Linked DNA regions of Homo sapiens. The protein of the gene in region 4 interacts with the protein of the main gene of each other region in a biochemical or structural test. Each region holds a gene or a part of one and is shown on either strand. Other genes may lie near its edges.

Evidence for each region.
Region 1: the proteins of PDLIM7 (region 4) and PDZD2 interact in a test that uses a peptide from one of them, tested with the Homo sapiens proteins (one large-scale study listed by IntAct).
Region 2: the proteins of PDLIM7 (region 4) and PDZRN4 interact in a test that uses a peptide from one of them, tested with the Homo sapiens proteins (one large-scale study listed by IntAct).
Region 3: the proteins of PDLIM7 (region 4) and GRID2IP interact in a test that uses a peptide from one of them, tested with the Homo sapiens proteins (one large-scale study listed by IntAct).
Region 5: the proteins of PDLIM7 (region 4) and CYSLTR2 interact in a test that uses a peptide from one of them, tested with the Homo sapiens proteins (one large-scale study listed by IntAct).
Region 6: the proteins of PDLIM7 (region 4) and CASK interact in a test that uses a peptide from one of them, tested with the Homo sapiens proteins (one large-scale study listed by IntAct).
Region 7: the proteins of PDLIM7 (region 4) and TJP1 interact in a test that uses a peptide from one of them, tested with the Homo sapiens proteins (one large-scale study listed by IntAct).

Annotation. Positions count from the first base shown.
Region 1 is NC_000005.10:32,103,711-32,108,185, reverse strand, and holds part of PDZD2 (PDZ domain-containing protein 2), read right to left. Parts: exon of another isoform or gene 3,471-4,475; intron 2,063-3,470; exon of another isoform or gene 2,006-2,062; intron 1,899-2,005; exon of another isoform or gene 218-1,898; coding exon 51-217; 3' UTR 1-50.
Region 2 is NC_000012.12:41,194,501-41,198,975, forward strand, and holds part of PDZRN4 (PDZ domain-containing RING finger protein 4), read left to right. Parts: intron 1-4,475.
Region 3 is NC_000007.14:6,540,983-6,545,457, forward strand, and holds part of GRID2IP (delphilin), read right to left. Parts: intron 1-4,475.
Region 4 is NC_000005.10:177,490,877-177,495,351, forward strand, and holds part of PDLIM7 (PDZ and LIM domain protein 7), read right to left. Parts: intron 1,802-4,475; coding exon 1,650-1,801; intron 1,560-1,649; coding exon 1,529-1,559; intron 1,050-1,528; coding exon 931-1,049; intron 545-930; coding exon of another isoform or gene 528-544; intron 271-527; coding exon 134-270; intron 31-133; coding exon 1-30. UniProt on the Homo sapiens protein: May function as a scaffold on which the coordinated assembly of proteins can occur. May play a role as an adapter that, via its PDZ domain, localizes LIM-binding proteins to actin filaments of both skeletal muscle and nonmuscle tissues.
Region 5 is NC_000013.11:48,708,512-48,712,385, forward strand, and holds the end of CYSLTR2 (cysteinyl leukotriene receptor 2), read left to right. Parts: 3' UTR 1-2,715; downstream 2,716-3,874. UniProt on the Homo sapiens protein: Receptor for cysteinyl leukotrienes. The response is mediated via a G-protein that activates a phosphatidylinositol-calcium second messenger system.
Region 6 is NC_000023.11:41,913,170-41,917,644, forward strand, and holds part of CASK (peripheral plasma membrane protein CASK), read right to left. Parts: intron 1-4,475. UniProt on the Homo sapiens protein: Multidomain scaffolding Mg(2+)-independent protein kinase that catalyzes the phosphotransfer from ATP to proteins such as NRXN1, and plays a role in synaptic transmembrane protein anchoring and ion channel trafficking.
Region 7 is NC_000015.10:29,703,525-29,707,999, reverse strand, and holds part of TJP1 (tight junction protein 1), read left to right. Parts: intron 1-2,254; coding exon 2,255-2,472; intron 2,473-3,694; coding exon 3,695-3,838; intron 3,839-4,475. UniProt on the Homo sapiens protein: TJP1, TJP2, and TJP3 are closely related scaffolding proteins that link tight junction (TJ) transmembrane proteins such as claudins, junctional adhesion molecules, and occludin to the actin cytoskeleton.

The DNA.
Region 1 (4,475 bases), about 150 Mb from region 4:
CTGATTTGCTAAAGAAAGAAGAGAACTGAGAAAATGATTCTTGTTAAAATTCATGAAGAATTCCTATGCTTTCTAATTAATAACTGCACAGGTCCTTCTGGGACAGACTTCATAATATTCCAGGCATCAAAGTGCATGAGCCCAACCAGAGGTTTCCCATTAATAGCAAGAATTTCATCTCCAGCTTCTATTATTCCAGCTTGTTCAGCCGCACCACCTACGAGAATAAACACAGAATAATTAATAGCTTGGCAGTTTCATAGTATTCAAAAATCCTAAGTAAACTAAAAACTTTTAAGTGATAAAAATATCTAAATAATATATTATTGAATAGAGAAATATTTCTTAGAACACAAAAAGCATATATCCATAAAAGTAAACTGGTCTACAGAAAACAGTGCAACTCTAGCCCTCCTGCCGCCCCTCCAAACATAATCTGTAAGATAAAAATAAACTGACAAGGGGAAGATACTCTCTATGTATTTAATCAACAAATGGTTAACATCCAGACTAAAGAGCTACAAGTCAACAAGAATAACACAAAATAAAGTTGGGGTAAGGAAATCAACAGCTGAACTCCAAACAGCCAGTAAACACAGAAAAGCAGGTTCAACTTTTTTTGTTGTTGTTGAGACGGCCTCACACTGTCACCCAGGCTGGAGTGCAGTGGTACAGTTTTGGCTCGCTGCAGCCTCCGCCTCACTGGGCTCAAGCGATCCTCTCACCTCAGCCTTCAGAGTAGCTGCTACCACAGGCATACACCACCATGCACAGCTTTTTTTTTTATATTTTTGGTAGAGATGGGGTCTTGCCATGTTGCCCAGGCTGTCAGCTTCTAATTGTTAACAGATTCTGGCTGATATATGCAAGTTCTGAGAATCAGTGATTATGTGCTCATTAGTGACCATGGGGACTACTTACTTACAGAGTTTAGCATGTTCACATTATAGCTTTGTCTAGCTTTGTATGAGCTTTGAAAAAAATGCAAGTGTAAACCCTCCATTTACGTTCTCACACATATACTTCTAAAGGTACACCAGCTATGGAGGCATCTTATGGAAAAAAAATGGCATTGAAAGAAAAAGTCCCAAGTGTGAAAAAAATTTTCTCAGAAATTTTGATTAGACCTCAAAAGACTGAGCAGATGTATCGATTTCATCCTAAATTACTGAAAGTCGTTATTGAAATTATTGAAATAAATATTATGTGATAAAAATACAGCTTGGAAGAAATCCAGCCCACACAAGGACAAAAACATTTTCTGTGGTAAATGATAGAGGCAGTTAGTTACATTAGAAGAGAGACCTCACCAATATCAGCCCTGTAGTGGGCCCCAGGAAAATGATTTGGTCCCTAGTCCTTGCTTTTCTTGAGATAGATACATTTTTGGAAGGACCAAAGAACCAATTATATTTGTGTTAACTTAGTACCCAATGTCCTATTCTAGCATATTAACCGAAGGCCTTCAGGTTATGTGAAACAAAAGAATTTTGTGAGTGTTCACCTGGGCTTCAGGACATGGGAGGTTCCAGGCAACCAGAACAGCCTGACGCACACTGAAGGAGCAATCAGACTGGGTTTGGTCTCAAATCTGTGACTTCAGGCAAGTTACAGATTTCTCCAAACTCCAGTTTTCTCATCTGCAAAATGGTGATGATGATATCTGTCTTGTTATCTTACTAGGTTGTTAGAAGGACTGAATGAGATGAAGTAGAGGAAAGTCTTCTAGGACAGGGGTCCTCAACCCTTGGGCCACAGACTGGTGGCAGGAGGGCTGCACAGCAGGTGAGCAGTGGGTGAGTGAGCAAAGCTTCCTCTGTTCACAGCCTCTCACCGTCACTCACACTACCACCTGAGCTCTGCCTCCTGTCAGATCAGCAGCAGCATTAGATTCTCACGTGAGTGTGAACCCTATTGTGAACTGCATATGCGAGGGATCTAGGTTGCATGTTCCTTATGAGAATCTAATGCCTGATGATCTGTCATTGTCTCCCATCACCCCCAGATGGGATGCCTGGTTGCAAGAAAACAAGCTCAGGGCTCCCACAGATTCTACGTGATGGTGAGTTGTATAATTATTTCATTATATATTAAAATGTAATAACAGAAATAAAGTATACAATAAATGTAATGCACCTGAATCATCCTGAAACCATCCCCCACCCAAACCCTCACCATGGAAAAATTGTCTTCCACAAAACCAGTCCCTGGTGCCAAAAAGCTTGGGGACTGCTCCTTTAGGAAACATTCAGTGTTGTACAAAGCAGAGGTTTGCCAGCTTTTGGACTTTTTACACAAGAGAGAAATAAATTCTCTCGTTTAAACCACTGCTATTTTGGATTTCCTATTACATGAGGCCAAACTGAATCTTAACAGATTTGAGCAGGATATGTCTCTCTCTCCATTTACTCATAGATTTTTTAAAATTGTCCTTTAGAAAGCTTTTATGCTTTTTCCCAAAAAGGTCTTGCATAGCTTTTGTTGAACACATTCTTAGGTTCCTTATGCTTACCATGAATTGGTGTCACACAGTGCACAATCTGCATTTGGCTTTTTTTCATTCAACACTGTTTTTGAGCCGGTCCCAGTTAGTATATAGAGAGAGGTGTAATTTATTTTTTCAACTGCTATTTAGCTTTCCTTTAGATGAATATATTTTATTCTGCTACAGATAGAAATTTAAATTGTTTCATAGCTTCCATTTTCGTAAGCACTGCTAAAATTTTCCTTAAAGATTAACCAGTAGATACTTGCACGAGAAAAAAAATGTGTTTTCCTTTCTCCACATCCTTGCCAACACATCATAGTATGAGATTTTTTATTTTTGGCCAACTTGATAGATTAAAAGAATGATTTATAATATTTCTAATTTTCATCCAATACATTTAAGTTTGAGCATCTTCCTGTGTTTCTTGGCCACCTAGGTTTTAACTTCTGTCCATTTGCTATTGCTTTCTTTACCCAAACTTTCTCTCTTGTATTTTTCTTACTGAATTATATAGTTCTTCATATATTCTGGATTGATTGATTGATTGATTGATTGTTTTTTTTTGAGACAAGGTCTCCCTCTGTCACCCAGGCTGGAGTGCTGTGGCACAACCATGGCTCACCACAGCCTCGACCTCCTGGGCTCAAATGATTCTCCCACCTCAGCTCCTGAGTAGCTGGGACTATAGGTGCGTGCCGCCACACCCGAGTAATTTCTGTATTTTTTGTAGAGGTGGAGTCTCGTCATGTGGCCCAGACCGGTCTTGAACTCCTGGGCTCAAGTGATCTGCCCACCTTGGTCTCCAAAGTGCTGGGATTACAGGTGTGAGCCACGGTACCCTGCCTATTCTGGATATCAACCCTTTGTTTATTAAATATATTGTAAATATCTTCTAATCACTTACTTTTGAATTTGCTTATAAATTTTGCCATATAATGAACATTTTATATGTTTTTTTTTTTTTTTTTTTTTTTTTTTTTTAGATGGAGCCTTCTCTGACCCCAGGCTGGAGTGCAGTGGTGTGGTCCTGGCTCACTGCAACCTCCGCCTCCTGGGTTCAAGTGACTCTCCTGCCTCAGCCTCCTGAGTAGCTGGGATTACAGGCATGCACCACAATGCCCAGCTAACATATTTTTAGTAGAGACGGGGTTTCACCATGTTGGCCAGGCTGGTCTCTAACTCCTGACCTCAGGTGGTCCACCCACCTTGGGCTGCTTAGGAGGCTGAGACACCAGATTCACTTGAACCTGGGAGGCAGAGATTGCAGTGAGCAGAGATTGTGACACTGCACTCCAGCCTGGGTGACAGAGCTAGACCCTGTTAAAAAAAAAAAAATTCTTTATTATTCAAATGCTTGTTCTGTAATAACCTTACTCAAAGAAATCAGTCTTGCTATATTGTTTTCTAATGCTTGAGCTTAAAGACACAGGAAAACAAAATGAACAGAAAACCTGTACTCATGAAATTTGTAAATATGAAATACGAGATAAGGTGAATCCTGACCTCAAGTGATTCGCCTGCCTTAGCCTCCCAAAGTGCCGGGATTACAAGCATGAGCCACCATGCCCGGCCAGATAATGACATCTTTAGTCTCACTAGTTTCCAAAGGTGGGATCTGCCGTATCATACTCAGAAATACTTGAATGGCTTTCCCCAAGAACAAAACCACAGGCTTGCACACGAGAGCATCTAAAGCGCTAGTCTGTGGGACTGACAATTTTCTTCTTCTCTATCCATTTCCATAGCAGTTTTCACAGATTTGTGGCCAGATGCTAGAGACAAAGGCTGAGAAGTTGTCCAGGACGTCATATTCTTGCTTTGCTGGAGGCAGATCTGAAGGATGTCATCTCTCCTGTGGCTTCTTCTAGTGTGGGGTCCCGAAGCCTGGCTTCCCCAGCCGATGTGCTGCTTTAGTCAGCGTCTGCCCTGGTCCTTCGGTTCGCAGGCTCACACGCTTTTTTGGGTTGTGTCCCTTTGGACTGCAGAG
Region 2 (4,475 bases), on a different chromosome or scaffold from region 4:
CATGGTGGCACATACCTATGGTCCCAGCTACTCAGGAGGCTGAGGTGGGTGGATCACTCGATGTTAAACCCAGGAGGTCAAGGCTGTGGTGAGCTGTGTGTAGGCCACTGCTCTCTAGCCTAGGCAACAGAGCAAGACGCTGCCTCCAAAAAGAAGTAAAACTCTATTATGATTCTATATAATTCGTTAGATATTGTGATGAAAGAATAAAATGCCTGAAGTTTTCAAATGTGTTAATGAATACCTCTGTTTTAATAACCTGTGTTTCCCATGAACTATGATGTCACTTGCTTGATTATTAAAGGATTAATTATTATAACATTTCAAAAAAGGATGATAAATCTCTGTTGAGGAACATTTCTGATGAGGAACTATGATTATATTTTAAATTTGTAATTAATATTTTATATGTAGAGTTTGGAATAAATTATACAATACTTTTAATATTTCTTGGTGTAATATGGCTACCTTGTTCCTGTCATTATCTTTTATATGAAAGAAAAAGAGAAATACCTTTTTTTCTCTTTGTTGTGAAAACCTGGTGAGAACTCTTTGTATGTTTTAACTGTATTGTTGTATTCGGGGGTGATAAAGTGAGCACCTATATGCTAGTAAAATTGGGTTATGTTAATGAAATTTTATGTCCCTGCCATCTGCCATCTCTGTCCTTTTGACATTTTATTAACTGGTTAAGATAATATTACTTTTTGTTGCCAAAAATGGTTAAGTTACTTTTATCAGTGAGTTTATTTCCAATGGATTAGTGAAGCTATAAATAGGAATTTGGAAGGTTTACTTGACTCCACTATTGTTTTTAAAAATTCTGTTCACTCTAGGCTATATAATCACTAGTGCTATCTCTCTGAATACTTATATAAACTATCAGAATGGAGGCAGATTTTCTATATTAAATTTTAAATAAAGTTTTAGCTTTTCATTCATCCTCTGTGCACTAAACAAAGTTGAATTTTTAATGAATCGACATAGAGTAAGAGTGAAGAATATAGAAGACCCAATAGTTTGCTGTTTTGGGAAAAAAGAACACAACATTTATAAATTAGCCGACTACAAAATTTAGAAAAAAAAGAAGAGTTATCTTTTGCCAAAAAAAAAACTTTGATTTATATCTAAAGAGGTCTCTTGTATCAAGATTTTTATTCTTCCAGTTTTGTTGCCGAGAAAGTGCAGACCTACTTTTGCTGTTGCTATCCAGTTCATCTTGACAATTTGTCTAGTGGAAACATTCACATGCTGTAGCTTCTAAAGTTAGAATGTGCACAGTATGATCTAAAGGGCAACATACTTTAAACAGAAGATTGTCCCTATTACTTTCTGCATTATCTCAAAAACATATTAAGTTGTCCAGTTACCAATGGAAAATAAATTCCTACATTTGATATTATTAGAAGAACTGATGGAACTGAATACATATATTGTTACACCCACACAAACACATAGACACAACAGAAATACGTATTGGCAATTTAAAAAATAACTTATTCTAGCTAGATGACAATATTATGTATGCTTCATTAATGTTACATTAGAAAAGAAAAAGAATTTTTTATATTGTCATACAACAATTTGGTTACAAACCTACTGTTTTTTTTAAAGAGGTAATTTTATAAAACTATGGTTGAAAATCAAGTGCATCTAGACACCTACATAGTACTGTTACTAATATATGTCAGATTAACCTTATTTAAACCCTGTAAGATAAAAAGTAAGGAGGTCAACCACAGAAATTCAAATGAAATTTAACTAGCTGCGGTATTATTATTCACTTTCATTTGCATATATTAGCAGTTAATGACTAGAGCTTGAAATTTGTCTCAATGATATAGATTTTTCAATGTGTCTTTTATACCAGGGTACATTGATTTTATGTATATATGCTATAGTTGTAGAATGGATCAATGTGACCACATTTGCAGTTAAGAAATGGGTTAGATGAGGTGCATATTTCTAGAATGTTGTGTGTTAAATAGCATGAAATATTTTAGAAAGAAGATTATTAGAAATAAATTGCTCTTGCTTAGTTGTTCAGTGATGCTATCGGCTTTTTGAGTGAATAGATATTTGTGTGACTTTAATATCTAGTTAAACAAGAAGTGTGTTTTTTCTTGTGCATATGGTGTGTGTTGTAAAAGATCCCTATGTAATCATTAAAGTTAGAAATATTTGATGCTTATCATTATTTTAGTTTCTCTGTCATTATGATATCAATCAACTTTAAGCAGTTTTTAGCTAATTGGAAATTGAGAAGAAATCTATCAATTTAAAATGTGCAGATGCATATTTTAAAACAGATTTTTAAAGTAAAGATAATAATTTATTTTCTGTTTTGTGATCAAAGATTTGTTCATTGAACAAATTTAATGGCTCAATTTTTGAATTTCAAATGGTCATGCTGATTTAAACCTGGTGCAACAAGTAAGTTTGTTAACAGTGTAAAGGGTACAAACTAGTTCATATATTATAAAATTATCCGTATGACTTATGCACAATCTGACACATTACTAAATGCTTTGAATTTACTGATATATAACTGAAATAAAAAATAAAAACAATAAGAGATTCTATGGTTTATATATAGTCAAGATATGCTCAAAAATATTTTCTGTAGCTAATTGCTTGATGCACACATACAAGTTTATGAATTGTTTTTAAAAAATAATAAAATTTTCCAAAGTTATTCACTTGAAGAGGAAGTAGACATGTTAAAGGTTTTGTTCTGTTGGTGGTTAAAAAGATTTTATAAACTCTAATAAATAATATATTAGTTATAATAGTTTTGCCACAGTTCAACAAAGGCTAGTAACACGTATTATTTTTTAATATTTGCATTCTATTGATAAAATTCAAGAATAATAAAAGAATAAAAAATTACTGTCATTAGGTAAACCTATGTCATATTTTTCACATAATATAAGGCAAGTTAATTTTTGGAGTCAGTCTCCACAAGCAACTATGTTAACCAGTTTCTAGCTATTTCCACATCCATATTTGTTAAACTATTTATGCTTGTAAATTTTAAAAAATCAGTTGTGATAGTTGAGTTACACTAGGTGTCAAAATATCACTGGAGACTGAAAAGGCAGAAGATATTGTTGAAGGCATTTTGAAACATCACAGAAATTCACATACACCAAGAATTCACCACAGTATACAGCTGAATAAAAGCATGCTGTTTTTCATTCTTTCAAGAATCAAAGGAATCACAGAAAATCCCTGATCCTATCGAAGGTTGGGCACAATTCTGGAAGAAGGCATGACCATTGCTGTAGTTATCATCATGTTAGGATGCCTAAGTGGTATGTGGGAGGGAGTTGAGAAACAAAGTTCACTGTTGCTTTTAGCATCGATTCCTCTATTCTTTCTTTCTTTCTTCTTCTTCTTCTTTTCCTTGTTTTTTCTGGGTTTTTTTTTTTGGAGACAGGATCTTGCTCTGTCACCTAGGCTGGAATGCAGTGGCATGATCACAGCTCACTGCAGCCTCTACCTCTGGGACTCAAGGTATCCTCCAGCCTAAGCCTCCCAAGTAGCTGGGACTACAGGTGCACCCCACCTCACCTGGCTAATTTTTTAAAAATTTTCTGTAGAGATGGGGTTTCACCATGCTGCCCAGGCTGGTCTTGAACTCCTGGGCTCAAGCGACCTGTCCACCTTGACCTCCTGAAATGCTGGGATTACAGGCGTGAGCCATAGTGCCCAGTCTCCTCTCTTATTTCTATGATACTGATAGCAGGCAATGCAACCATAACTCCAGAGTGGGAAAGGGTGGATAATCATTCATGGCTCTTTGTTTACACTTTCTTCTCCCAGCACTCCCCTAACCCCTGCAGCTCCAGGCCAATGTTGTTTGAAACAGTGCTGGAGGCACAGTGCTTCTCTCAACTTCTGGAGACCAGAGTGGGGCTGAAGGTCTGTGGAATCTTTGAGATGAATAGCTCAGAGCACAAAGCAGAGGATTTTTTTTAGTGTATATATTAAAATCTTTTTATTCTATTTTTTACCTTGAAATTCATAATGCAATGCAGCATAAAAGGCATTTTCCTTTTCTTTAGAAATAGTTCCCACATTGGAACATCACACTCTGGGGACTGTTGTGGGGTGGGGGGAGGGGGGAGGGATAGCATTAGGAGATATACCTAATGCTAAATGACGAGTTAATGGGTGCAGCACACCAGCATGGCACATGTATACATATGTAACTAACCTGCACATTGTGCACATGTACCCTAAAACTTAAAGTATAGTAATAATAATAATAATAAATAGAAATAGTTCCCACATTGAAGTGTCAGTGTAGCACTTTCCATTAAGTGCTGTTTATTACCAGAAGAAAGAGTTTCACAAATCAGAAACTTTTTAACTATCGCCAGACTACCAACTACACTTTCTTTTATTTCTGTAATGTTATACCTCTGCATTCTCTGTGGTCACTATCTGTACTGCTAAAATGAAAATCTTTG
Region 3 (4,475 bases), on a different chromosome or scaffold from region 4:
TGTGCCTACATGCTTGGCTAATCTGTTTTTTTATAATCCCTCATCTACTTAAAGAGAACTGGCTAATTAAATTTTTTTTTTCTATAGAGATGGAGTCTTGCTATATTGCCCAGGCTGATCTCAAACTTTTGGGTTCAAGTGATCCTTCCACCACGGCCTCCCAAGGTGCTGGGATTACAGGTGTGAGCCACCTCTCTTGGCCAGCATCTTCATTTTCCATGTAAGGAAACTGAGGCTGGTAGAGGTGACGGCGTCACGGGGTGAAAGTGAAGGGTCAGGATTCAAACCCAAAGAGAGCTGTTCTAATAAATATCGTAAAGATCAAAGGAATTAATATAAAAGCTTAAAACCACACCACACATTCAGTAATTGCTAGTTACTATTATTATAATACTACACTCCCTTCCATACTGTGCGCTGAGAGATCCCACACAGAACATTCTGACTCCACAAAAAAAGTCCTGGCACGTCAGCTTGGCCCTGAATTTTGACTCCCTCAGTTCTCTCTCCAAACTTTTGTCTTTGTCCACAAACCAGCTGATACTAATCAAGGCACATCTGCACACAGGAGTGTGTGGCCATTGGAAATGAGCGTGCAAATGGACACGTTGGAAACGTGTGCAAATGATCACGTTGGAAAGGAGCATGCAAATAGACATGGTGGAAACGAGCGTGCAAATGCACACGTTGGAAACGAGTGTGCAAATGGGCACATTGGAAATGAGCATGCAAATGGTCATGTTGGAAATGAGCATGCAAATGGTCACGTTTCTGGAAGGCAGGTTGTTAAGTGTGTCCAAAGCCCATCCTTCTACCCAATGATCTCACATGTAGGAATTTATCTTACACACATCCTGACAAGACACATGCACGATGATGTATGAGTGAGGTGGTTCACCTGTGTATTATTTCTAACACTAAGACGTTGGCAGCAATATAAATATCTGACAGTGGGGGCTAAATAATTGCAGTACATCCATGTGGGAGATATTTGTAGTTTCTTGGCTATCTAGGCCAAAAACAAAGAGGAAAATCTCAGCCAGGCGCGGTGGCTCACACCTGTAATCCCAGCACTTTGGGAGGCCAAGGGGGGCGGATCATCTGAGGTCAGGTGTTTGAGACCAGCCTGGCCAACATGGTGAAACCCCGTCTCTACTAAAAATACAAAAATTAGCCAGACGTGGTGGTGGGTGCCTTTATTCATCCCAGCTACTCGGGAGGCTGAGGCAGGAGAATCGCTTGAACCCAGGAGTCGGAGGTTGCAGTGAGTCGAGATCTTGCCATTGTACTCCAGCCTAGGCAACAAGAGCAAAAACTCCATCTCAAAAAAAAAAAAAAAAAAAAGAAAAAAGAAAATCCCAAAGTAGGTGGGAGGCAAGATCCTGGCAGGGCTGGGGGCAATGGTTCACACCTGTAATCCCAGTGCTTAGGGAGATCGAGGCAGGAGGATTGTTTGAGACCAGGAATTCAAGACCATCCTGGGCAACATAGCATGACCCCATTTCTACAAACAAATTTTTTTTAAATTAGCCAGATGTGGTGGTGCATGCCTGTAGTCTCAGCTACTTGTGAGGCTGAAGTGAGAGGATCACTTGAGCTCAGGAAGTTGAGGCTGCAGTGAGCCAAGATTGTGCCACTGCACTATACAGTCTGGGCAACAGATCAAGACCCCATTTCAATAAATAAATAAGAAAATAAAACCATGAAATAGGGAGTGATGGCTAAGGAGTGCAGAATTTCTTGTTAGAGTGATGAAATTGTTTGAAAATGGATGGTAGTGATGGGTGTTACAATCCTGTGAATATATTAAAAACCATCGAATTGCCCACATGTCATACAGTTTAGCCACTGAAAGCACATACTCCATGAGACCCTTCCCTTGTTGGCTGAGGGTCTGGTTGTCTCTGGGCACTGACAGCTGGAGCTGACCCTGAAGCAAGGCTGGGCGGCTGAGTGAGTCCATGAGTCGTTCACGTCTCCCTCTCTCGAGGACTTGTGGGTGCAACTTCAGCCTGAACTGGGGCTGTCAGGCCCCGCCTCTCTCACCCTCATCCACCTCCAAACTTCTCAACAGACTCCGCATCCTTCCCTTCCATCCTCTGCTCTCAGAGGTTGAAGAGGCCCACTTCCGGCCGGGTGCGGTGGCTCACGGCTGTCATCCCAGCACTTTGGGAGGCGAAGGTGGGTGGATCATCTGAAGTTAGGAGTTCGAGACCAGCCTGGCCAACATGGTGAAACCCCATCTCTACTACAAATACAAAAATTAGCTGAGCATCTGATGGCAAACGCCTGTAATCCCAGTTACTCGGGAGGCTGAGGCAGGAGAATTGCTTGAGCCTGGGAGGCGGAGGTTGCAGTGAGCCAAGATCGTGCCACTGCACTCCAGCCTGGTGACAGAGCGAGGCTCTGTCTCAAAAAAAAAAAAAGCCCCCTTTGTAGTCAAGGCCAAATCACCAGGCCACAGACACCTCACCATTCCCAGTCTCCACCCCTTTCTTCCTGCCACCTACTTGTCATTCAGCTTTCAGCTCAAAGATCATCTCATCAGGCAGCCTTTCCTGGCCACCCTGTCAAAGTGGGTTGCGTCACTCTCACCTCACCCTATTTATGCCTCCACTTTATTCATCATCATCTTTTTTTTTCTGGAGTCAGGGTCTTGCTCTGTTGCCCAGGCTGGAGTGCAGTGGTGCAATCATAGCTCCCTGTGGCCTTGAACTCCTGTGTTCAAGCGATCCTCCCACCTCTGCCTTCCGAGTAGCCAGGATCACAGGTGCACGCCACTGTGCTTGGCTAATTTAATTTAATTTTATTATTATTATTATTATTTGAGAGAAAGTCTCACTCTGTCGCTCACTCTGTCGCTCTGTGCAGTGGTGGGATCTTGGCTCACTGCAACCTCCACCTCCTGAGTTCAAGCAGTTCTCCTGACTCAGCCTCCCAAGTAGCTGGGATTATAGGCAAATGCCACCACGCCCGGCTCATTTTGGTAATTTTTGTAGAGATGGGGTTTCACCATGTTGGCCAGGCTGGTCTCAAACTCCTGACCTCAGGTGATCCTCCCACCTCGGCCTCCCAAAGTGTTGGAATTACACGTCTGAGCCATCGTGCCTGGCCTGTCATGATCTTTAATAGCTTGTGTATTGATTAATCCACTTGCTTACTGTCTCTTTCCCTGCAGTAATGTTAGGTGTGTGAAGTCAGGCTCCTTGCCTGTGTTGTTCATGGCTGTTTCCCCTGTCCTGCACATCATAGGCCCATGATCAATGACTGGTAAATGCATGGTTTTCTTTTTCTTTTTTCTTTCTGTTTTTTTTGAGATGGAGTGTCACTCTTATTGCCCAGGCTGGAGTGCAATGGCATGATCTCGGCTCATTGCAACCTCTGCCTCCCGGGTTCAAGCGACGCTCCTGCCTCACCCTCCTGAGTAGCTGGGATTACAGGCACCCGCCACCACAACCAGCTAATGTTTTGTGTTTTTAGTAGAGACAGGGTTTCTCCATGTTGGCCAGGCAGTCTCGAGCTCCTGACCTCAGGTGATCCACCCGCCTCAGCCTCCCAATGTGCTGGGTTTACAGGTGTGAGCCACTGTGCCCGGCCTGCATGGTTTTCAGTATATCTACTTCTCCATTCCCTGCAGCTTATATAAATGTTCAAGTCTCTCTCAGGCTATAAATAAATAAATAACAAGCTGGGCACAGCAGCTCATGCCTATAATCCCAGAGCTTTGGGAGGACAAGGCGGGAGGATCACTTGAGGCCAGGAGTTGGAGACCAGCCTGGGCAACATAACCAGACCCTGTCTCTAAAAAATGAAAGACAGCCGGGCGCGGTGGCTCATGCCTGTAATCCCAGCACTTTGGGAGGCCGAGGCAGGCGGATCACAAGGTCAGGAGATCGAGACCATCCCAACTGACACGGTGAAACCCCGTCTCTACTAAAAATAGAAAAAAAATTAGCCAGGTGGGCGTGATGGCGGGCGCCTGTAGTCCCAGCTACTCGGGAGGCTGAGGCAGGAGAATGGTGTGAACCCGGGAGGCGGAGCTTGCAGTAAGCCGAGATCGCGCCACTGCACTCCAGCCTGGGTGACAGAGACAGACTCCATCTCAAAAGAAAAAAAAGAAAGAAAAGAAAAAGTAAAAAGTTAGCCAGATATGGTGGTGCACGCTTGTATTCCCAGCTACCAGATACTTGGGAGGCCGAGGTAGGAGGATCTCTTGTGCCCGGGAAATCAAGGCTGCAGTAAGCCATGATCACACCACTGAGCTCCAGCCTGGGTGACAGATCAAGACCCTGTCTCCATAAATAAATAAATAAAAGACAATCCTCCTTTGATCCTGAAAGCTGCTCATTCTCCTCCCTTCTGTAGTCTGGAGCCGTCTACACGTGCTGTTTCTGTACCACTGCCCTTTGCCACTGCAGTTCACTATTGCACTTGAGGCTCTCCACGACCCAGCTCTGGCGAAGAACCCCAGACAG
Region 4 (4,475 bases):
TCTTCAGGTGCTCCTCATCCGGGTCTTGCACTGAGAGGGCAGAGGCAGGCATTGACCAAAAAAGACACAGGGTCAGGGATCACGCCTGGGCTGGGGGCGAGGAAAGTACCCCCTGCCCTGGGCTGGCACTTACTGAACTCGGTGCCTGTGAGGTGGGCAAGGATGCGGAAGGAACGCGACTGGCCTGTCCCCGGCCGCGGCCGCCAGTCCTCTGTGTTCTCCATCAGCCGCTGCTTGCTGGCATCTGGGACCAGCGGTCGGAGCGGCTGTCTGTGGGGAGGGTGTGGCTCAGAACCCCACACTGGGGGTGGGCGGTGGGGGCAGCCCCTCCCAGGATTTGGTGCATGTGGGTTTGGGTTACAGTGATGGGAGGGAGTGGGTAAGGGTGAGGCCAGGAGCCCTGCTGGGCGGGTAGGTGAGAGGACAGGAGGGCGAAGTGGAGAGGAGGGCAGCCAGGGTGGGGAGGGGCCGCCACCCAGAGTGCCAAAAGGAAGAAGAAAGGCACAGGCAGAGGGGGGCTCACTGACTTGTCAGGGGTCTGCACCTGTGAAGGAAATAAGACAGACAGACAGATAAAGGGACAAAGGGACAGACACAGGAGAGGAAGAAAGACGGGGAGGGGTCAGAACAGCCGGGGACAAGGCGGCACTGAGTGTCTGGGGCTCAGCTGGCCCGACACCACAACCCAACCCCCAGCCGCCAGCAGGGGGCGCGGCGTCATTCAGAGACCCCTCCCCAGGGCGGTGCCCTGCAAGGCGCCACAGCCTCGGGAGGGGCCCTGTGCCTGCAGCCCCACCCCGGCCGCCAGGGGGCGCTGCCGCACGGTTCCGCCGGGCTGGGGCGCAGCACAGACTGAGCAGCAGCGGGCAGCGGGCGTGGGGCCACAGTGGGCCTGATGGCGTGGGCGCGGGCGGGCAGGGGCCGACGTACCCATTCTGCTGCGGGGCGCTGTCAGCGGGCGGGGGCGCCCCAAAGGGCCGGGCCGTCTTGTTGAGGGAGACGCTGGGTGCAAAGGTGTACCGCGGAGGGTCCGCGGCGGGGGCGGAGGCCTGGGCAGAGACACAGCCGGGCAGGGCGGGCGGGCAGGGTAAGGTGGGGGCCTGGGTGGAAGTGGGGCGCCTGCAGCAGAGGACAGCGGCAGCTCCAGCCCCCCACCCCCACCCCACCCCCTACATCTATTTGGAGGCTACGGGGAGAGGACGACTCAGGTTTCAAGGGGCCCATTTGGGAGTGGCGATCTCAGTCCACGCAGGACCGAGGGCTGACCGAGTGCGGGCGAGCACGCAGCGCCGGCGGCGGGAGGCAGCAGGCGGACAGACAGGCGGACAGACAGGCGGACATGCGTGGTGCCAGGACCGTGCAGCAGCCCCTGGCTCAACTCCAGGGCCCTAGACCCGCCTTAGCTCCGGTTTCTGCCCTCCACTCCCGGCCAGGGATTGGGGTACCGAGAATGTGCCAGGAGGGCGAGCAGGCCTGGCCGTCCAAGCCCACACCGCCCACCGCCCGGATGTCCCGGCCAGCCTCGTACCTTCTGCGGTTTGCTCTGAACCGGCTGGGCCCTGGAGGAGAAGGAAAGCGTGACAGCGGGCCGGGCCCGCAGGGATCCCCACTGCCAGCGCGGGCGCACCCATCCATGTCCACCCGCATACCTGCTGAGGCCCAGGCTGAGGCGCTCCCCGCAGGCCCGGATCTTGTTCTGAGCTTCGATGTGTGTGAGGCTACCCGCATTCTCGCCATCGATGCTCAGCACCCAGTCACCCACGGCCACTCCGGCCTGCGCCGCTTTGCCCCCAGGAGTGAGCTGTGGAGAGAGAAGCAAAGTGACCGAGGCCCTGGACCCTGCAGACCCAAGCCAGGCTGACGGTGGTAACACTGCCCCACCCAAAGCTGTCCCACTTCCAGAACCCAGAGAGCTCTTCATTCAACATAGTTCTAGGCAGCTGCTGGACACTAAAGCAACCCAGGAGGTGGTGGCGCTCACCTGAGCTTCACAATTTCCCAGTCACACTGCTTATTTATTCACTGCCAGACCCTCTCCCTCAGGTGGTGCTCACCTGAGCTTCCCCAGTCACGATGCTTATCTATTCACCGCCACCACCCTCCCCCACAGTCCAGAAATTGCTATGATGTCCACAAACAGCCACGCTCAGGCTAAAGCCCAAGTGTTTCAGGAGGACCATTGCCTTTTGAGGCTCCTGCTGGCCTCCTGCCCAGGCCACTCCACCTACCAGATATGCCCTCTGGCCCATGCAGGGGGCAGCTTCCTCCCCGAAACCACCGGGGGCTCTTATGGACCTCTCACCCCCCAGCACCCTGTCGGGGGCCATCTATAGGGGTCTGCTGGGACCCTTTGAGAGCCAGGAACAGGCCCTGTTATCTCCCGGTTCCCTGTGAACACTGCCTGAATGGGACCTAAGTTGACAGCTGGGACTTCGTAGGCCATACATGGCTGTCACTCCCAAGCCCTCGACTGCCAATTTCCCCTGACCCCAATCCTTCAGGCTCTTGAGCTGGGAGTCCCTGGTTCCTGTGGCAATGAGTAGAGACAGTAGGCTGGGAGAAATGGCTGCCACCAGCATGAGCTGAGACCATCAGGAATGACTTTGAGGAAGCGGTGGGCCTCGGTAAAGGAGAATGGCGTGTGCTGCCTAGCGGGTGAGAGTTCACTTACGATGGCTTTGAATGCCAGGGGAAGGGACCAGGACTTGGCTTTGAAGGTAGAGGGGCTACTGGCAGTTTTAATGTCTGGGATTGGGTATCTCCCAGGCCCTGAGAGGGTGACCCTGATAAACCCCTTCCAGGCCTCTAGCCCAGCCCCAGCAACACAGGCAGGGCAGCTTGACTGGGTCCAAGCCTAAGGGACCACCCAGCCATCTGGCAAGAGGCCTGGCACTGCATCAAGTAGGCTTTTGTGAGGCAGTGCTGGAAGACAATTTCACTGGGTGGGGGGGATCTGGGGGGGTCCAGGCTGCCAGTGGCCCCAGGAGGCTCCTCAGGTGGGTCAGTGCACAGACTGAGCTGAGGCAGGGAGAGGGGAGGCAAGAGGTTTCAGAGAGATGTCAGAGGGCAGGGCAGCCAGGCACAGAGCTTGACAGCACTGGGAAAAGAAAGGCGAGCTGGGCTCAACATGACCTCTTGCTTGCGTAGGAGGTCAGAAGGCTAAGAGAGCTCGGCGGCCCCTTCCTCACTCGCTAGATAAGAAGACTTGCTTCAGTTTATTGAGCACCAACTATGCTACATATTGACACTGAATCTTCCAACAACCTTGTGGAGTAATCTGGGATTTTACCCATTTTGCACTTGCAAATGTACACAGAGAGGTTAAACAACTTGCCTCAAGTCACCCAGCTAGTAAGAGGCAGAGCCAGGAAGTGTCTCTGACCCTAAGGCTCCACCACTGTGGGCCACCTCTGCTGAGCATGGGGGCCCAACTGAGGGGTCAGCCCACCTGGAGACACCCTGAGCCACTCCCTCACCTTTAGTTCAATCCAACTAAATCAACCCCTTATACTGTGTATGGGGAAGTGACACCCCAGAGGGGAAGTGACTTACTCAAGGTCATGGTGAGTCAGTAGAAGGGAAACCTGGCCCAGCCACTCCCTGCCCACAGGGCTGGCTCCTGGGAGCTGTGGGCTGAGCCCGAGGTGGGGGTCTTGGGGTGCAGCTAGCTGGCTCCTGGAGAGGGGGTGGGGGGCGGGGACGGCTTCCCTTCCCAGAGTGAGGAGGGCAGGAAGCACAGAGGATGAGGGGTGTTCAGAGCGTGGGGAGGGCAGCAGGAGAGCAGAAGACAGCGCTGGGCGGGTGGCTGGAGAGAGGCAGGGAGGGGCTCAAGCCAGGGGCAGGGTAAGGCCAGAGGAACCAAGGAGGGAAAAAGCCAGGGGGCTGGACCCTGCATGAGGTGGGGGTGAGTCAGCCTGAGCAGCCCAGCCCCCCAGTCCCAGACGTTACCTCATCTCCCAGGCCTGGGCCCACAGCCAGCCCTTGCCCCTCCCACCTCCCTCCATTCTGGGGTCAGGGGAGGGGGAGGGGGCTGGCCTAACTCAGAAAAGCCCACCTCACCCACCCATGTGGGCCCAGGTCCAACTCCAGGGCTGGGATCAGCTAGTGGCCCCGCCCACATGCCAGGGATGCTGACCAGGGAGCTGGAGCCCGGAGTGCCCCCAACAGGCCATATCTGAAAGTCATCTCCATCAGGGAAGAAACTGAGGTTCAGGCTCCCCAGACACACTGGGCCAGCACTTTCCCAGGGAGCAGGACGTCAGGTAGGTTTCAGGGCTGTGTGAGGGCTATGTAGTGGGACGTGTGTCATAGGGCAACCACTGCCTCACTACCCTGCTGGCGGGGCAGGTTCCAGGAGAATGCCATCAAAGGACCCCTGAGAAGAGCACTGCTGGCCTGCCCACCCTAACCCCCACGCCCAGCTCCTACAGACAGACTCCAGCTTGAGCCCCTCCTCAGGCCACGACCCTCTGGGC
Region 5 (3,874 bases), on a different chromosome or scaffold from region 4:
TGCCAGGGTATTAGGAAGGACAGGAAAAGTAGGAGGAGGATCTGGGGCATTGCCCTAGGAAATGAAAGAATTGTGTATAGAATGGAAGGGGGATCATCAAGGACATGTATCTCAAATTTTCTTTGAGATGCAGGTTAGTTGACCTTGCTGCAGTTCTCCTTCCCATTAATTCATTGGGATGGAAGCCAAAAATAAAAGAGGTGCCTCTGAGGATTAGGGTTGAGCACTCAAGGGAAAGATGGAGTAGAGGGCAAATAGCAAAAGTTGTTGCACTCCTGAAATTCTATTAACATTTCCGCAGAAGATGAGTAGGGAGATGCTGCCTTCCCTTTTGAGATAGTGTAGAAAAACACTAGATAGTGTGAGAGGTTCCTTTCTGTCCACTGAAACAAGGCTAAGGATACTACCAACTACTATCACCATGACCATTGTACTGACAACAATTGAATGCAGTCTCCCTGCAGGGCAGATTATGCCAGGCACTTTACATTTGTTGATCCCATTTGACATTCACACCAAAGCTCTGAGTTCCATTTTACAGCTGAAGAAATTGAAGCTTAGAGAAATTAAGAAGCTTGTTTAAGTTTACACAGCTAGTAAGAGTTTTAAAAATCTCTGTGCAGAAGTGTTGGCTGGGTGCTCTCCCCACCACTACCCTTGTAAACTTCCAGGAAGATTGGTTGAAAGTCTGAATAAAAGCTGTCCTTTCCTACCAATTTCCTCCCCCTCCTCACTCTCACAAGAAAACCAAAAGTTTCTCTTCAGAGTTGTTGACTCATAGTACAGTAAAGGGTGGAGGTGATATGGCATTCTGAAAGTAGGGAGGGACTAAGTCAGTCATCATACTAAACAAAAATCCCAGTACCCTTTCCTTATTTAGCTACCAGAATGATGACAGACAGACTCAAACCCTGTCAAGACAGGACCCTGGAGGATCCTCCTATGGGGAAACTGCATAATCTGAAAAAAAGGCTGACAGATACAAATAGTTGAGGATCCTTCAACACAAAAGCTGCGTGTCTGCCCTATTACTCACCTGACGATGAAGCCCACAATGCAACAAATCCCTTCCACTCACAGCATTTGGTCAACCTGTCAGAGCCTCATTCTTAATTATGAAAAGTAGTCAATGAACACAATACATTTGAGGGAAAGGCCGTAACATGAAAGGCACCAACAAATAAATGTGAGAGTAGATAGAGACCTTTTGAGTATAAAAGATCCTCCAAAATAAGAGATTAAACCAAGATAGAGGAAAACACAGTAGCTGGGAAACAAGGAATCCAACGCAGGAGAAAGTGAAGAGAATTCCCAGGATGTTGGTGTGTAGCAGGCTTAGAAAGCAAGTCATTCATGTTGGAGCAGGACTCTTAAAGGACTCTAGGAGAGATGTCTCCCAGAAAAAGAAGAAATTAATTGATTCATACACATTGAGAGGGATTTAGATTTCTCTTGCAGAGATTGAGATAAACTAGTCGTAAATACATAGAAAAATAAGCAAGTAAAAACGCAATACAGTTTTTAAGTGCTAGAGGAAAAGAAACTTTTGTATTAGAGAGGAAATATAACCACAGTACACTACATGGCTCAGCTGTGAATAATATTTACATAGAGGATAATGTGAATATAATAGTCTCCCATTATCTGTGGTTTTGCTTTCTGCAGTTCAGTTACAGCCAGCCAGTCTGAAAATATTAAATGGAAAATTCCAGAAATAATTCTTAAGTTTTAAAACATGTGCTGTTTTGAGTAGCATGTTGAAATCTCGCACTATCACCCTCCACCCATGTTCTGGGCAGGGCAAAGTGGGATGGTGTGAGATTTCTCCAGTGGATCCACAATGTATATGCTACCCACCCATGAGTCACTTAGTCATCATCCAGTTGCTCAGATCAACTGTTGTGGTATAACAGTGCTTGTGTTAAAGTCACTCTTATTTTACTTACTAATGTCCCCAAAGCATAAGAGTAGTGATGCTGGCAAATAAGATACACCAAAGAGAAGCTGTAAAGTGCTTCCTCTAACAGAAAATGTGAAAGTTCTTGACTTAATAAGGAAAGAAAAAAAACACATGCTGAAGTTGCTAAGATCTACAGTAAGAACAAATCCATCTGTAAAATTGTGAAGAAGGCAAAAGAAATTTGTGCTAGTTTTGCTGTTGCACCACAAGCTGCAAAAATTATTTATTACACCCCACGGTGTGTGATAAACACTTAGTTAAGATGAAAAGGTATTAAATTTGTGGGTGGAAGACATGAACAGAAATGTGTTCCAATTGACAGCAATCGGGTTTGGTACTATTTGGGTTTGGTGCTATTCGTATTCAGGGTCTTGGAATGCAACTCCCACAGATAAGGGGGTGCTGCTGGAGTGAAATACTGTGATATAACCTTTTTTTCAGGAAATGAAGGGAGAAGATGTGTACGTGTGTGGGAGAGGTATAAGAGACCTAGGTTGCCATATTCTATCACAGAAAATGCATAATAACTAAATCTGGAAAATGATGAATAGCTGTACAACCATATTATTTAGCAATAGGAGGTAAATACAGGTAGAAGCAGAAGAAAGAATGGGCAGGGGTTACCTCTATGGAGAAGCTGGGGTGGGAGGATAGGGTGGGGACTTATTTTACGAACTGTGTAATTGCCTAACTTGTGAATATGTATTTCTGAAGTAAAATAAAAATTAAGTTAAAATTAAATTTTAAAATTCAAACTAATTCTGAGTTGTTTTTTAAAACAAAAACAAAAAAAGACAAGAAAGCCCATCAGAAATGGAAACTGAACATTGACAGAAGAAAGGAAAGCAGGAAAGGACCAGAGTTGTATTTCAGTTCTTGAGAGAAGCCCATCTAGTCCTGCCATGGGAGGCAAGTCCTTTCTTGGGGTGAGGAAAGTCACTTTCTGGGGTTAGAGAGATTTTGATATGTTACTTGGGATATTTTTAGTTGCAAGTAACAGAAAACCCTACCCCAAGTGGCTTACATAATAAAGGGATTTGATTATCTCATATAACTGAAATATACCGAGGGAAGTTGGACTTCAGGCCTTGTTCAACCAGGACATCTGTGGGCTTTCCTCCCCAGATGTTGGCTCTGCCACATGGGTGAATCCTCTCATGGAAACAAGCTGACTGCAAGCAGCCTGAGACTACACACTTCCTTATTTGTTTCTAAAGCAAACTAATGAAGAATGGATTACTCTGAATGAGGATGATGACAGTACACACCTAAAGTAGTTGAGGTGAAACCCGCTGAAATCTCATCTGGGAAAGGGGTGAAATGGGGCTTGCAGAGGCCACATATGTACTGCAAATGAGGTGGAGAGAGAGCTGCCAACCAGCTAAGCATCCATGCTGGGTGTGGCATGTAACTGAGCAGGCAGCCGGGCAGCTTTGGAGGGTGGGGGGAAATGCAGGCTCTAGGAAGAAGGGCAAAAGTTAAATTTTGAATTTCGGTTGTGAAGTCGTAGGGATTTTCAATTGTCAATGAGAAACCTTAACAACTTTCCAAGGGCAAAATGGCCCAAATAAAGCTGGGAGTAACAGAGCAACCAAGGTCCTTAGGATGAGCATAAGAGAGGGGTTGTGAATTATTAATGTCTATGGTGTGTGTATGTGAGAGACAGACAGAGACAGAGATGTAATGGCTTACTTTTCCTTTTTCCAGCCAGAGTGAAGCCTCCTATTTGTTGAAATATGTCCTTGGAGAGGAAACAAAATGGAACTCTTTACTTACCATAGCAAAAGCCAAAAGTGTCCTGGGGTTTTGGACACAGCTCTTTTTGTTAGAGTGGGTATTTCCTCAAGCAAGTACATACCTTGTTCAACTGGGAGAAAGGATTTTTGTTGTGTAAACTTTGGTGGAATTATGAGA
Region 6 (4,475 bases), on a different chromosome or scaffold from region 4:
ATGAGTGTGTGAATAACTCATTTGAGCTCCCTGAGGCCAGAGAACTCAAGTGTTTGGTGAATAGCAATACCTAATGCTAAATGACGAGTTAATGGGTGCAGCACACCAACATGGCACATGTATACATTTGTAACAAACCTGCACGTTGTGCACATGTACCCTAAAACTTAAAGTATAATAATAATAAAATTTAAAAAATAATAATAATGACAATGGCAATTAAAATAACAACCTTTAGACATTTCACATAGATCATGCTATTCAATCCTCACAACAACCTTACAAAGTATATACCATTAACCACATTTTACAGATAAAGAAACTGAGGGTCAGAGAGGCTAACTAACTTGCCCAGGACCTCATAGCTAGAAATGAATACATAAATGAACAATGAATAAAAGTTAGCACCACTAACAATTTTACACACATGGTAGAAAAGAATGTTCATTTCACCATATTATTTATGTAATAGAGCCTGTGTTTAGCACTGAGAATGTGCACATTTGGAAATTGTTGAAACTTACGTACATAACTGCCAAAAGTAATTTGAGTATCTCAGAGACATTCTAGAAATAAAAAATACTTATGCTGCACTTTACAATTCACTAATCCACACAAATGGTTTGTGAAGCAGCTATCATTCCTTTTATAAATAAGGAGAAAATAGCCACACTGTGCCCAAAGGTTACCAGATCAGAAGGGGGCTGCCTAACAAGCCACAGAGCAACCGCATTCCATACCTTTAGGGGAAATCACATACCAAGGGTAAGAAAGAAGGCCAAGAATTGATGATGTTTTCTAAAAACACAAATTAGAATCTATGAAATAGCAGTAGTATAATGGTAATCTGCACACCATGGAAGGACTAGAGAGAGAGACCTCTGTAACTGAATGAATATCATCATCCTTTAATTTAAGAAAACATTAAAATCTGCATGTAGTTGAATGGTAATACAGTGTACTTCTATCCTAGATTTAAATATACCAAAATACTCTAACTTAAGTGTTAAAAGCCTGAAATACAGACTGAACATAGTATATTTTGGATATTATTAAACTACATGAGAGACAGAACAATCCACATTCTTACCTGCAAATGATTCAAATACTCAAAACAATGATTACAAAGCAAAAAGGAAAGAAAGTATATTAAAAGAAATCACAAAGATTGGGAGAAAAAACAATGTACAACAGCCCAGTAATAAATAGAATACAAGAAGCTGAAGTGAAATAGCACGCACTTAGATACCAAAAAACTGGCTTATGTACAACGAAGCAATCGTTTCTTATTGTGAATGGATGTGGACAACCAAAAATAGCCAATGAACAAATTTAGTTAGGAGGTGATGGGAGAAGAAATGTGAAAGAGGAGGACAGTACTACATTCATCCAACGTGGACAAAAATCCTTGAGGCTAGAAAGAATTCAGTTTCCTATAGTAGAAAGATATAAGACAATAACAGTGGTTTGACACATACCAAGAACTTAAAGTAAATGTAAAGTATCTAAAACTTACTTTGTCACTTCATGAAAGGCTTCCATTTAATTGACAGTCATGCACAAGCTCGGGAATGAAAAGGACATAATCTTAGGAAAACCAAATGATTTTACCTAAAAGCCAGTCATCAGAAATCTGCAAAACACAATTAGAGTGAAAAAGAAATCTACTTTGTTTTTACCCTAAATATGTTGGTTCTGAGATAGATTTACAGAGAGATAGTATAAAATTACTAGTATCCACAGAAAAGAAGCCAGACCTAGCTTTTCAGACACATCATGAATTGACTATTAAACATAATATTCATTTTGATAAGTGCTTTAAATTGTTTCTCTGTTATAGCCACATGTGTTCTTAGTCCTCAGAGTATATTGGCATTTTACATTATTGATCCTCCCCCCTCTTTTAAACTTCTGTGCAGCCCATTATCCTGATTCTTCTAACTCTATGAGTTATACTCCAAACCACGAGCCCTAGAGCAGTCAACCCCCAAGAACTTGTTCACTCAGTTTTACTTCCACACAGATGACTCCCAAATCTTCACTGCCATTCCATACCTCTCACCCAAATTCCAGCTCAGCATTTCAAGCAATGTAAAATTACAATTGGCTTGCACTCAATCCAAAGCCAAAGTAACAATCCATATGACAGAATACTGGGCAGCAGCTAAAGAGGAGATAGAGACAGACAGATACATTGATGGATATGACAAGATCATCAAGTATATACTATTATTCATGAAAAATCAATATTTCAGCATAGTATACAAATATCTCACTTTTAAACAAAAAGCTTCCAGAAAGATGGAGAAGAAACTGAACAATGGTTACCTCTAGAGAATGGGGATATGGATGGTAGGAGAATTGAGACAGACTCACTACTTATCTTTGTATCACCTATATTTTAAATTGTATGGCTGGGCACAGTGGCTCACGCCTGTAATCCCAGCACTTTGGGAGACCAAGGCAGGTGGATCACCTGACGTCAGGAGTTCGAGACCAGCCTGGTGAAACCCCGTCTCTACTAAAAATAAAAAACTAGGCTGGACGCGGTGGCTCACGCCTGTAATCCCAGCACTTTGGGAGGCCAAGGCGGGTGGATCACGAGGTCAGGAGATCAAGACCATCCTGGCTTACATGGTGAAACCCCATCTCTACTAGAAATACAAAAAAAAAAAAAAAAATTAGCCGGGCGTCTGTAGTCCCAGCTACTCGGGAGGCTGAGGCAGGAGAATGGCGTGAACCTGGGAGGCGGAGCTTGCAGTAAGCCGAGATCGCGCCATTGCACTCCAGCCTGGGCGACAGAGTGAGACTCCGTCTCAAAACACACACACACACACACACACACACGCACACACAAATTAGCCAGGCGCGGTGGTGCATGCTTGTAATCCCAGCTTGTTGGGAGGCTGAGGCAAGAGAATCACTTGAACCCAGGAGGCGGAGGTTGTAGTGAGCCAAGATCGTGCCACTGCACTCCAGCCTGGGAGACAGAGCGAGACTCCATCTCAAAAAAAGAAAATAAAATTTACTACGTGCATCATTACTTTTATAATTTACTGTATAAAAACTAATTAATAAAGAAAAGTAACACAAAATTATTAAATCTCAATGTTGGAAATAAACATTAACTTCAAAACAAACTAGCTTCGGAAATGAAATTTTCCCAGGGTAGAAGTCAGAGACTCTATACTGACTTGGGCTCTACAACCAATACCATAGTGGCTCCAGGACAGAAAGGAAGGAGAGCAAGTTCTGTAGCATCTTAAATCCCACAGCATAAATCCAGAGCCATATTTGGTGCTTCTAGAATCTTCACTGTCAGTTGCAACTAAAAAATAAAACCAAAAAATGTGAGAACAGCACATCCCATCAGCTTGTTGGCTGGGGTCCGGTACCTGCTCTGCAATAGTTAACTCAGTCTCTTGATTATTTAAGGTGTACAGTGCTGGCAAACAGCTAGAAGCTCACAGACTCAGCGGCTGCAGCTCACTACACGGTTTTCAGAATCAGAGAGAACAATCTCCGTATTTTTATCACAGGATAAAGGAATAACTATCCTTTGGAAACCACTCCACCCCACTTCCAACAAACATCTACCTCTGAAACCTTATTACTTCTGGTTTGGCAAGTTAGGGGTAATTAATCAACTATCCTGTCTGTTGGGGCAAGGGAAATGGAAGAAAAAATTTGGAGAGTAAAAGAAGTAGAGAAAGTTCCAAAACAAATTATATTTTGGACAGATGGCCAAGAGTCTATATTTCCATTGCTAGATTTACCAGTTAGTTTGGTAACAAATGCTGATGTTTCATTAAAGAGAAAGACAAAAATAAAAAAGAAACAGATGAAAGAATGAATAGTATATGGAACCTCTACTGAAGAAATAAGAAATTTAACCAGAAAGTCAAACAACTAAAATTTGCAGTATAGAAACTCTGAAAATGAAGACGTGTCTTTAAGAAAATCCAACACAGTATTTTCACAACTTGAATTAGCAGCAGAATGCAGCATGAAATGAACAGACTTTAAAACCATGGAACCGCGTTGGAATCTGTGTGATCTTAGGCGAATTACTGATCACCCCCTCTGAATCTCAGTGTTCTCTGTAAAATGGGTATGATTAAATAATACATCCAAAATGCCTAACATTAGAGGGATAAATGTCAATCCCTTTATAAAGTAAGCTTTAAGTTATAGAAGTTTTTTAAACAACCTTATGTCAAAGTTCCTTTAAATGCAGTGCTCCTACCACATTTAAAATGTGAAAACGTTTAAGAAAATGTAATAATTCAAGAATAATCTCAAGAAGCAAGGTATATCTGCTCCTTCAATTTATTGAGTAGAACTACAGCTGGAGACAGAATTTTCAGTTTAAAGGAAATATCCAGGTACACAATTTAGGGACACTTGAGACGTAGTTCATCAGGTGAAACTGTTGCAGATACAAGGAAAAAATGGAGAGAGCTGAACTGCGTATG
Region 7 (4,475 bases), on a different chromosome or scaffold from region 4:
TTTTGAACTTCTGATCTCAAGTGATCCATCCGCCTCCACCTCCCAAAGTGTTAGGATTACAGGCGTGAGCCACTGCACCCAGCCAGGAGCCCATACTCTTAACCAGCCATGACCTTTTGTAACCTCCTGACCTACTGGTAAGGTGCATGTGGAGGACATCTAAAAACATTAAGTATCTATGTTCCTCATTCATTATTTGTTCCACAATGATGCTAAGAAGAAAAATAGAATAACCTCTGACTGTTTAAAGAGCAGCAGTTAGTGAGATGGCTGAGCAAATGAGACAAAGTGAGCCCACCTGGAGCCTCCCTGCAGCTCCTCTTTCCTGTCTTTCATTCCACGGCGATTGACCAGATGGATTCTGGCCATACATAAAAGCTCATCTCAGCCTCCTACAGCCAGTTCCATTTTCACGCCACCATAAAGCAGAAGCACTTGCAGGCAGGGAGAACCAAAGGTCAGGATGGCCACCTGAGTCTGCTTTCCAAGAGAAAGGATGGTTATGGCGGTCACTGCCTTCCTAGCTCTGCACATCCACAGATGGTCAGGGGCGGACAGAGCTGGCCTCTGCTCTGCAGCTCAGGCTGCGCTCTGCTCCCTTGATGTTGTGTCGTAGGATGTCGTCCCTGGCACTCCGGTCATGCTGGAGTGAAACGGCAGCTACCTTCATGTAATTCTGTTTCGTTGGTCTTTCTGCTCACCTTTGAGCCCTGGCTCAAAACTGTACTTTCAGGAAGTTGATAGCCTCTACTTTTGAAGCAGTCATTGATACCACATCCCCTTTGCCTTTGGCGTTCTGTGATTACTAAGTTAATCTACTGTCTCTCTTTCGTGGATGTTTGGGATATGCCCATACAAGGGTCTTCGCCTCATGGAACCTTGGAAGCCTTGCCTCCTACAGCCAGAGCGGGCGCTTGGTCCTCAGGGAATGCTGAGGCAGGACCATACTCAGGCACACTTAAAATCCTAGGGAGATTTTATCAAGTCTGAGATGCTGTCAGCCGTGAGATGCACCATTGTTTTGTGTCACTAAAAATGGAAGAACAGCCAGGCACGGTGGCTCATGCCTCTAATCCCAGCACTTTCGGAGGTTGAGGCGGGCGGATCACTGGAAGTCAGGAGTTCCATCCTGGCCAACACGGTGAAAACCCATGTCTACTAAAAATACAAAAATTAGCCGGGCATGGTGGCAGACGCCTGTAATCCTAGCTACTCAGAAGCTGAGGCAGGAAAATTGCTTGAACCTGGGAGGTGGAGGTTGCAGTGAGCCAAGATTGCACCGCTGTACTCTAGCCTGGGTGACAGCAAGACACTCCATTTCAAAAAACAACAGGAAGGGAAGAACAGGGCTACCAATTAAATTGTGACTTACCAGTTTTAAAGTTCCAATTTCATGGATTTTAAAATGTGCTTCATAAAACTCTGTACCTGTTTAGTATCCCTTGTCCAAACTTCTTGGGTTCTGAAGTGTCTCATATCTTGGGTTTTTTTGGATTTTGGAATATTGCCAAAATGCTCCAATGAGCATTTCCTTTGAGCTTCATTTTGACACTCAAAAAAAAGTTTCCGATTTTGGAGCATTTCAGATTTTCAGGTTAGGGATGCTTCACCTGTAGTTGGGTGTTCAAGGCATCAGATTTTACACTTTCAGGTTGCAATTCATTAATGAAGGTCGTTTGACTAATTGCCTTCAAAAATTGAATTTTTGACATTTCTCTAGAATTTTTGAAATTTTCTAGAATGGAATTTCTCTAGAAATAATATTCTCGCCAGGCGCGGTGGCTCACGCCTGTAACCTCAGCACTTTGGGAGACCAAGGCAGGTGGATCACGACGAGATCAGGAGTTTGAGACCAGCCCGGCCAATATGGTGAAACCCCATCTCTACTAAAAATACAAAAATTAGCCAGGCTTGGTGGCGTGCGCCTGTAGTCCCAGCTACATGGGAGGCTGAGGCAGAAAAATCACTTGAACCTGGGAGATGGAGGTTGCAGTGAACCAAGATTGTGCCACTGCACTCCAGCCTGGGCGACAGAGTGAGACTCTGTCTCAAAACCAAACAAACAAACAAAAAAGAAATAATATTCTCTGCGATAACCCTGTCAGTAAAATCTGTTGCCAGAAACTTATCTTGTTAAAGTAACTTCTTGATTATATGGAGAAATAAAAGTGAAAGCACGTAATACAGTAGTAGTAAAAGCAAAGCACCTGTGTATTATTAGGAATTCACTCACTAGCCATTTCTGAACTTTCAGTCCTTCAGCTGTGGAAGAGGATGAAGATGAAGATGGTCATACTGTGGTGGCCACAGCCCGAGGCATATTTAACAGCAATGGGGGCGTGCTGAGTTCCATAGAAACTGGTGTTAGTATAATTATCCCTCAAGGAGCCATTCCCGAAGGAGTTGAGCAGGAAATCTATTTCAAGGTCTGCCGGGACAACAGCATCCTTCCACCTTTAGATAAAGAGAAAGGTAAATGTGTTTATTTTTCTCCTTAGTTTTGATAACTTAAGAGTTGCCCTGTGTGCACTTCAGAGCTTATAGTGCTTGGCTAATAATGCAGCACCTCTCTATCTCCAGATGAGTGCTGTAGCGAGGGGTGCCCTGGGGACGGTGTTGCAAGCAAGCAGTGGGTGGCCTGAAGCAAGGCTGTGGTGACCACACTGCCTGCTTTTACTTTTGGTGTGAAATAAAAAATGATGGCATAGGACAGGCCACGGGATGTCTCACCTGCTGAGCAGCCTAGGCTGACCTAACCAAATTTGTCTTTGAATCAGTCAGCCTTTGCGTCTCTGGAGATGGGTTAGGTAACACCCACTCAGAAAGGCTTTGCTGTGCCTTCACCTGATTGGAGAACCTAAACCTCTTGACAGGTACTGTCTTATTCATCACCCCAGAACCTAGCACTAGTACATGCTCAGCAGAGTGCATGAAGGAGTCTCAGAGGAGATGACAGCATGTTTCTGAGCTTCTTAAGGAAACTTATTTTCATAATCCTCCTGGATCTACCAGGATATTATAACGAAGTGTGTTGTGATTTAGCATCTTTTAGCAGTGCTTTTACTTCCTAAACAAATTTAGTTCGCTTTTTTGTATTTTGCCGGAATACTGACATCTGATTCTGTACTCTGATTTTGGGGATATCCTGTTTTAAAAACCAGTAGGACTGACTGTGTTGGCCCTGCATGAATCTCTTTAACCACCTATGGAGCAAACAAAACATTTTGAAAATGGAAAATATATCACATTCGCAACAAGCACATTTGAATATGTTTTTTATTATAGACCCATATGATTGAATGCAGTAGCCACTGCCTGCACGTGGCTAGCTAGCACTTGAAGTGTGACAATTTGGGATTGAAAGATGCTGGAAATGTGAAATACACACCAAGTTCCAAAGATTTCATATATTGATTACATGTTGAAATAACAGTGTTTTCGTTATATTGAGTTAAAATATTAAAATATTGTAAGATTTGATATCACTTGTTTCTTTTTACTTTCTAACGTGGCTACTGGGAAATTTAAGATTCCATATGTGGCTGCTGTTACGTTTTTTTGTGGTCAGTGCGACTGTAGAGAACTAACTCCATTAGGCTTTCAAGCATATAATTAGAAGCAGGGTGAGGAAAACTGGGATTCTAGAAGAAAGACCACATCCATCCTCTCTGCCTATCCCCTTTTCCAACTCCAGGTGAAACACTGCTGAGTCCTTTGGTGATGTGTGGTCCCCATGGCCTCAAGTTCCTGAAGCCTGTGGAGCTGCGCTTACCACACTGTGCGTCCATGACTCCTGACGGTTGGTCTTTTGCTCTAAAATCATCCGACTCCTCGTCGGGTATGCTGTCTTCACTCTGTCCTTTGGGAGCTTTGGGGACTGTCGTTGATTAATACCTGGGCTGATGATGCTGCCCATGCTGTGTGTTAGCAAATCTCTATCTCTGTTCCTGTGGCCTTGTAGGCATCACCAGTGTTTTCACATTTATTTGTGGTGCATATATTGTAAATAAATATGGAAAGGTAGAAGACTTTCTGCCTTTTAAAAATTGATAATTTGGGCCGGGCGCCGTGGCTCATGCCTGTAATCGCAGCACTTTGGGAGGCTGAGGCAAGTGGATTACCTGAGGTCAGGAGTTCAAGACCAGCCTGACCAACATGGTGAAACCCCATCTCTACTAAAAATACAAAAATTAGCCAGGCGTGGTGGCACACACCTGTAATCCCAGCTACTCGGGAGGCTGAGGCAGGAGAATTGCTTGAGCCAGGGAGGCGGAGATTGCAGTGAGCCAAGATCGTGCCACTGCACTCCAGCCTGGGCAACAGAGCGAGACCGTCTCAAAAAAATTTTTTTTTGATAATATGGCCAAATATTGACTATTTCTTGGTGTTCAGAAAAATGATTTATTCTGTCAAATTTTTCAGGATGCAGTGGGAGATATTGTCCTGCACAAATAGGCATTTTTACCTTATTAAAA